2 linked regions of the Homo sapiens genome follow. The protein of the gene in region 2 purifies or fractionates together with the protein of the main gene of each other region. This does not show direct contact. Each region holds a gene or a part of one and is shown on either strand. Other genes may lie near its edges.

Region 1 (3,426 bases), on a different chromosome or scaffold from region 2:
AACTGGGGCTGGCACCTGCTCCGGTCAGCACGTCCCCACCAGTCAGCACATTCCGAGACATCATCTCCCCCATTCTGGGTCACCCGGTGGAGGGCACAGAAGCCACTCACCCTATGGACCTAGAGACCAAAGTTTCAGACTGTCTAGGACTAACCTGTTTTCCCATGATTTTGTTTTCTCTTTCAGAAAAGACCAGGATGTTTAACTTACTGCTTAGTTTAATTTAATGTGCCTTATGCATCATTTCATGTTGATAAATGTGTAACTCTCCAATCATGCTTTATGTCCTGAGTTTCTGCTTGGGGAACACAGAGAATGTCAGTTCTCAGTTGTCAGGAGGGCCTGCCCCATTCTCTGCTTTCCCTGTCTTTGCCTCCAGCCCTGGCTCTGGGAGAGATGAGAGGAAGGGCCAGGGTCCCCTTCTCCCTTCCCAGTGCCCTCACCTGCACTCCTCGCCCTCCAGCAGTTTGCGGTAGGTGGCGATCTCCACATCTAGGGCCAGCTTCACGTTCATCAGCTCCTGGTAGTCACGCAGCAGCCGCGCCAAGTCCTCCTTGGCCTGCTGCAGGGCCTCCTCCAGGTCATTCAACTTGTTCCTGGCATCCTTGAGGGCATGCTCCCCACGCTGCTCGGCATCTGCGATGGCATCTTGCACATTCTTACACTATGACAGAAGGACAGAGAATGGATTCTGCCTGACGGAGGCGGACAGAGAGCAGAGGTGTTCGAAGTGCAGGAAGCCAGAACCACTGGCCCTGGGAGTGTTAGGTCCCCTCTGGAGTTTAGTCGCAAACAACTGTGCTAAGACTTGCCGCTGTCTCTGGCACATCTTCTTCCCATGTCACCGTTGATGACACCCTTTGGCTTTCCCCATAGTGCCCTTTGATCCTCACATCACAGGGCCTGAATCATGATCCCATTTTACAGATGGAAATGAAAACATTTGAAATGGTCTGCTTGGCAAAGCTTCTGCTGCTGATGGAATCCACTCTCTGCCTCTACCTTTTCTATTCCAAAGCTAACGTCCAGCCCCAGGCCAGCTGCCCTCAATACTCACTGCCCCTCTATGAAACCAGTCGGCTGGTGCTCAGGGCCTGTGCTGAGCACAAACGGGAAGCTCCATCGGCAATCTGCAGCAAATCAATCAAACTAACGTTTGCTCTATTTGTTATGACTCCCTTTTCCTCATATAAACAAGTGAGCACAATTCTTTCCCTTCGATAATCCTTACTTTGGAATGTCTATTAGAGCACTCTAAGAATTGTTATAATAAGCCATAAATTATGTTAAGCTGGGGAATTTGGGATCGATACATGCTAGAGTGCAATATCTCAGTGTCTCTCATCTCTCACATGCACACTCACACACAACCACACTCTCACGCACACCCAGAGACAACCTCCCGCCCCTCGCTGGACAGGGCTGGGCCTCACCTGCTTCTTCACATGTGCGATCTCCCCCTGCAGCCTCTGGATCACGCGGTTCAGCTCGCTGATCTCTATCTTGATCTCTTTCAGGCTGTCTCCATGTCTCCCGACAGTCACCTGGAGCTCCTCATACTGATATGGGGAGAAGAGGACAGTTTGCAAGGAAGTTCCAGCCTGGCTCACATTCCAGACTGACTGGAGTGAAGGAGAGCTGGTTACTGGTCCAGGGAGGGTCAACCCAGCTAAATGTCATGGCTGCATTCATGAGAGGTAGGGACTGTCTCACATGCCCAAAAGGACTTGGTGCCATTCTCAACATCCTTTCTTGGGAATGGTGCCCAACTACCATTAAACAAAAAACCAATAACCTTACTGTACACTTTCCAGCTGGGGGTGCAACCCAGCTCATGGCAGGGAGCTGTGGCTCTTCCTACATTCCCTCTACTTGCCTTGCTGTGGTACAGGGCCTCCGCTTCTTCCTTGCTCCTCTGGGCGATCTCCTCATACTGGGCCTTGACCTCGGCGATGATGCTATCCAAGTCCAGGTTGCGGCTGTTGTCCATGGAGAGGATGACGTTGGTGTCAGTGACACTCTGATGTATCTGGGATATCTCCTACAACACACAGGAAGGTCTGGTCATGACATCCTGCCATAGCTACAGGCAGACAGGAGGCCTCTGTCTCCCAGCATAAGGGAAACGCAGACCCTCAGACTAAGCATACACTAGGTGGGATGAAAATCATGTAACCGTCTACTCCTGGGCCTCTCCCAAGGTTGTCCTGAGAATTGTAGTGAGAGGCACCTGTATTTCTGAGCCTCCTAGTTAACATTCAGCACTTAAGCCAGTTATGGTAAGTGCCCCCAGACAGAAGCTTGTCCATGGCAAATACCTTAAATGGACTTCCTGTTTCAGAAATCATCTGTGCACCCTTGGGTTGGGGAGGGGGATAGGAGACAAATGCATTTTGACCTCTGAAGTACAGTAGGCACAGGAATGGGCACAGGGCTTGTCTCTTCCCCAGGGGAAATGGACATCTGGGGAATGGAGGGAGGGGAAGCTGTCCTGGTGTTTCCTGAACCTTATTCCCATAACATCGGAGGAGAAAATTCCTCACCCACAAGACCTATGCTATGAAAGCCCCCCCAGTGGCCTGGAATGATGGCAGATTGAAGTCAGCTGGTCCATAAACCCCACTTCTGCCACTTTTTCACCAAGCAGAAAGGACTTTCATTTGGTGAGAAGGGTGGGAAGTAAGGGACTGTCCCGGAGCAGCCTCCTTACCGCATCATAGAGAACTTTCAGAAACTCAATTTCCTGGTTCAGCAGGTCCACCTTGGACTGCAACTCCACCTTTATCATGTAGGCATTGTCCACGTCCTGCAAGAAAGGTTGAGGCCTCTGGTGTATGGTTCCCTGTACAGGCCTCTTCCTCTCTCTGCCACTCCCCTCTACTCAGTCCCTGCTGGCTCCTCTCTAAAATCCCAGGCTCCCCAACCTGATCCCTGTCCCCATGGGACTTCTTTTGTCGTGCAGTTTACCATACACCTCTGCCAGGGACTTCATGCCTACGTCCATGGCTCACAGCCCTCAGGACCATCAGAGCCTCGAGATGACCAAGCTTTGCCAACCAGCCCCTCTCTCCTGCTTGAGACACTGTGTGTTTCTACAACAGGATACGATGTTCTTTGTGGGTTTCCACAGTCCTCAGCTCTCTCATCCCGTCTGTCCATCTCACCTCTCCGAAATTTCCCCAGAATATACACCAAAGGCCCTGCAGGACCCAGCAGGAGAACCCTTGCTTTTGGCCTACAACCTCAAACCTTTGTCAGCACAACCAACAGCAACTTTAAGCAGGCATTCTAAGGGAAGTCCCATTCCTTCCTCAGCTCTTTAGAAGGAGAATACAAAGAGATTTTTGTGTTTGCATTTATCATGATTCAGTAGAGGCTTTAAGTGGGTTACTACTGGGAAGCACTCTACCAAAAATGCAGAACAGC
Region 2 (4,349 bases):
AAAACCTTTCGAAGATCATTTCTGTTGTTTATGCTGAGGTCAGAGCGTGGGCGTTCCTGGTCCATGGTCACACATGTCTTCTTTAAGCCCTGAGGGAAGAAAGCTGAATCGCTGTTTACCATCTTAAATCAAAACCCGCTGTTCTCATAAAGCACAAGCAAACGATTCCTGATGTTCACCAAGATAATTCTCATATAACCTTTACACTTGACATCACCTTTGCAATAATTAATATTATTCTGATTCTTACAACAGCCCCATGGGCTAAGTGAAGGCTGAAGTTTTCAGGCCATTTCGCAGATAAGGAGTGAGTTCAGGACTCGCGCACAGGAGTCCTGGGTTTGGCCCTACATTTGGAACCATAGTATATGAAGCTTTAAAATTAAACAAAAGAAAAAATGTAAACAAAAGGCTAATATTCATTCCCTTCACTCTCAGATGGGGAAACCAGGAGATGGGGTTGACTTGCCCAATGTAACACAATGGAATCACATCACAGGTGGGGGCTGTAACCATCCCAAACTGTGAGTCCATGACTCTGGGACCCAGGCCCATGAGAAGCTCTTGGTAAATGCTAAGTCATGAGCAAAGCCACTTTCCATCATCCCACCCTGAACTGCCAGAAGACCAAGGTTCAAGGCCCAGCTGAGACATGCTCTAGCAATGGAAAATCTGGGGTTGGCGAAGTGAGGGTCCTGTTCGCAAGTGCCTGGCTTCTCTATTTGAAAAACAACCACAGCAGTTGCTCTCTGCCCACCTCACTGGGCCATGGTGATTGTCAAATGGCTGGAGGCTGAGAACATGCCTCACCAACAGCTCAGCCTGGTGTTAGGGGTGTTCCTTGTTCTTAATGGATTCCAGACCCCCAGTGCTACACAGGCTTCAGCCTCTCCCAGAGCCTTTGTGTTCAGAATTTTACAGAGGCTCTAGCTGCTGGGGAAACATGACAAAACCCATGCCCACCATGAATTTAGCTAAGAAGGTCAATTTGGGAAACTAAAAGAACACAATCTTGAAACAAACAGAGGAAAGAGGAGGCCGTAGGGAAGGGAAATGGAAAGAAATGGATATATGGGTCAGAAAAAAGGTGGATTAGGTGCATCGGGAAGAGTCCATTTGAAGGAGAGGTGGGGTTCAAAACCAACCACCCGCATTTCATCTGGGCTTAACCATGGCTTTCCCTCCAGTCAAAGTGATGTGGAACATGCTATAACGAGGCTCTCTCTGATGGATAATTCTTTATGTCTGTCAACAGTTCAAATCAGCAAGCCCTGTACATTTAACAAACCCCACCCCTACCCTGGCTCTAGAGCGTGATGCACACCAGCATTTGAAAACCACCGGGGGCCTGGGCATGGTGCCATAGGCCTGCAGTCCCTGAACTTTGAGAGGCCGAGGCAGGAGGAATCTTTGAGCTCATGACTTCAAGGCCACAGTGAGCTATGATTACACCACTGCACTCCATCCTGGATGAAAGAGTGAGACCCTATCTCTAAAAAAAAAAAAGAAAAAGAAAAAGAAAGAAAGAAGAAAAGGAAAGAAAAGAAAAGAAATACCATTGGGGTAGAGGACAAGGGTGCCCTTGGGAGTCAGCCAGTCCTCAGTCCCATCCAGCCCATTCAAACTTCATTCGCCCAACAAACACCTGTCATGCACCTCCTATGTGCCAGGCTCTGTTCTAGATGCAGGAGAGACAGAAGGAATAAGAGCTGATGTTCTGTTGGGAAAGCAGACCATAAATGTATAGTGTGGCAGCTGCTAATATGCACTACGAGGGAGACAAAGCAGGGAGAGGGAAGACAAGGATGAAGGCCACTGTTTTAGATGGCCAGCTATTTGTTCAGCATCATCCACATGCTCACTCCTGTCCCAGTTTCCCTATCTGTGAAACGAAGGGAACAGACCACTAGTCCGTAAGTCCAGTTGCTAGAGGCAGAGCAGTGAACAGATGAAAGTCCCAGTCCTCAGGGAGCTTGCACTCTATAGGGGGAGAGACAACAAGTATAGTATGATATGGGGAAAAAACATACAAAGTAGGATAAGGAGACAGAGAGGGCTAGGGTGGGTGTGGGGATGCGCTGCTACTTTATCAAAGGTGGTCAGGAAAGGCATCATTGATTGATGAGGGAATCAAAAGAGCAGGCCACACAGACACTTGGGAGAAAAGTGTTCCAGGCAAGGAACAGCAAGTGCAAAGGCCCTGAGCCAGTTGCAAAAGGCCAGTGCATCTAGAGCTGCATGGCAGGGGAAAGGAGGTAAGGAAGTCAGAAGTCACCCAGAGACTCATAAGGAAAGGTCTTGTGGGCTTTTATGAAATGGGAAGGCTACTATTTTGAACTGACATATTTTTGAAAGATCACTTGGCTGCTAGGTTGAAAATAAACTGTAGGAGGCAGGAGATTAAGGAGAAACCATTTAGGAGGCTATTGAACAATTCACAAATCACATGAAACAAAGGGGTGGCTTGGAGCAAGGTGTTTGCAACAGAAGTGGTAAGAAGTGGCTACATTCTGTATGTGCTCTGATGATAAAGCCAACAGATTTGCTGATGGACTGGATATGAGGTGCACAAGAAAGGAACAAGCCAAGAATAATTCCAAAGTTTTGGGCCCAGGCAACTAGAAGGACAGAGATGCCATTTATTCCAATGGGCACAGTTGTAGGAGGAACAGGAAATCAGAAATTGAGTTTTGGACATTATGATAAATATATATTTGTTCTGTGTCCCAGGTTCCTGGCACATAGATTCTAAAATCCTTGGAATCTCCAAGGTGATAAGAATGTCTTCTGTATGCTAATGTGATGACTAGTGGATGGGGACCCCTAGATAGCTTCAGGATGGGGGCTGGTCACCAGAAAGAGCAAACCTTGATTAGAGGGCTGGAACTTTCAGCCCTACCTCCCAATCTCCCAGAGAGGGAAGAGAAGCTATAGATTGAGCTAACCACCAATGGTCAATGATTTAATCAAACATTCCTATATAGCAGAATTGACACAAAATCTCCTGAATGATGGGGTTCAGGCAGTTCCCAGGTTGGTGCTGGGAGGGCAGCATGCTGAAGACGGCACAGAAGTTCCATGACCCTCCACCCACACCTTGCCCTATGCATCTCTTCCATCTGGCTGTTCCTGAATTGTGTCCTTTATAGTAAACTGGTAAATGTAAGTAAAGTGTTTCTCCGAGTTCTGTGAGCCATTCTAGCACATTATTAAAACTGTGGAGGGGGTTGTGGGAACCCTCAATTTATAGCTAGTTGGTCAGAAGTTCAGGTGGCAACTTGGGACTTCTGACTAGCATCTGAAGTGGGGGCAGTCATGAGCGTGACTTAACCTGCAGGGTCTGCACTAACTCTTGGTAGTGTCAGGACTGATTTGAATTGTACGACACCCAATTGGTGTCTGGAGAGTTGGAGATTTAGTTTGTATGGAGGAAAAATCCCCATACATTTGGTGTCTGAAGTGTGAGCAGAAACACTATCAGAGACATGTTGAGATGCTTGTTAGACATCCCAGTAGATATGTAGAATAGGCAGTTGTAAGAATTCAAGAGTTCAAGGAGAGGTCTCAGCTAGAGATAGACATTTGGGAATTGTCAGCATATAGATGGTATGGGAATCCACAAGACTGGCTGAGATGTCTTGAGAGTGAACGGAAAGAAGAAGAGAAGAGAGCCATAAACTAAGTCCTTGAGCCCACCAGAGTGCACAGGACAGAGAAACTAGGGGGACCAGCGAAGACCCTGAAGGGAGCACCCAGAGGAGTAGGAGGAAAGCTAAGAGGGACAGTCTCCTAGAAGACAAGCAGAAGGACACAATCAACTGTGACAAACATAATCATTAGATCAAGAAGGGCGAGGACTAAAAATTCCAGGTTAATAATGGCCCTAAGAAGAGCTATTTCCATGGAATGATGGGGACAAAAGTCTGATTAAAATGGGTTCGAGAAAGCAGAGAAAAGAATTAAAATGAAAGTAGACACAGGTCCTTTATGGGGTTTCTATAGAAAGGGAGGAAATAATAAACCAGTAGCTAGGGTTTGGGGGTCAAGATGGGATTCTGCAGGAGCACAACATGTGCTGATAGGAGTAACCTAGTAGAGGAGGGAAATGCATGGTGCAGGAGACAGCGACATCCCTGAGCACACAAGAGAGGGCATGCACACATGGAGGGGTGGGCCTAACCAGGGGTATGGAGAATTCATCCACAAGAACACTAAAGAGAGCAGAGTGAATGGTGCAGCCCAGGAAGGTGAGTAAGTGTGGTAGTGGGAGCCTGCTGGACTTCTCTCAAGACTTCTGTTTTCTCAGTGAAATTAGATGGGGAAGGAGCTTCAGGGTTTGAAGAGAGAGA

The links.
Region 1: the proteins of MINDY4 (region 2) and KRT2 purify together in Homo sapiens (affinity purification with mass spectrometry, with the first as the bait; one large-scale study listed by BioGRID). This does not show direct contact.

The regions. Positions count from the first base shown.
Region 1 is NC_000012.12:52,646,297-52,649,722, forward strand, and holds part of KRT2 (keratin, type II cytoskeletal 2 epidermal), read right to left. Parts: intron 2,807-3,426; coding exon 2,711-2,806; intron 2,042-2,710; coding exon 1,877-2,041; intron 1,560-1,876; coding exon 1,434-1,559; intron 665-1,433; coding exon 444-664; intron 1-443.
Region 2 is NC_000007.14:30,774,172-30,778,520, reverse strand, and holds part of MINDY4 (probable ubiquitin carboxyl-terminal hydrolase MINDY-4), read right to left. Parts: intron 90-4,349; coding exon 1-89. UniProt on the Homo sapiens protein: Probable hydrolase that can remove 'Lys-48'-linked conjugated ubiquitin from proteins.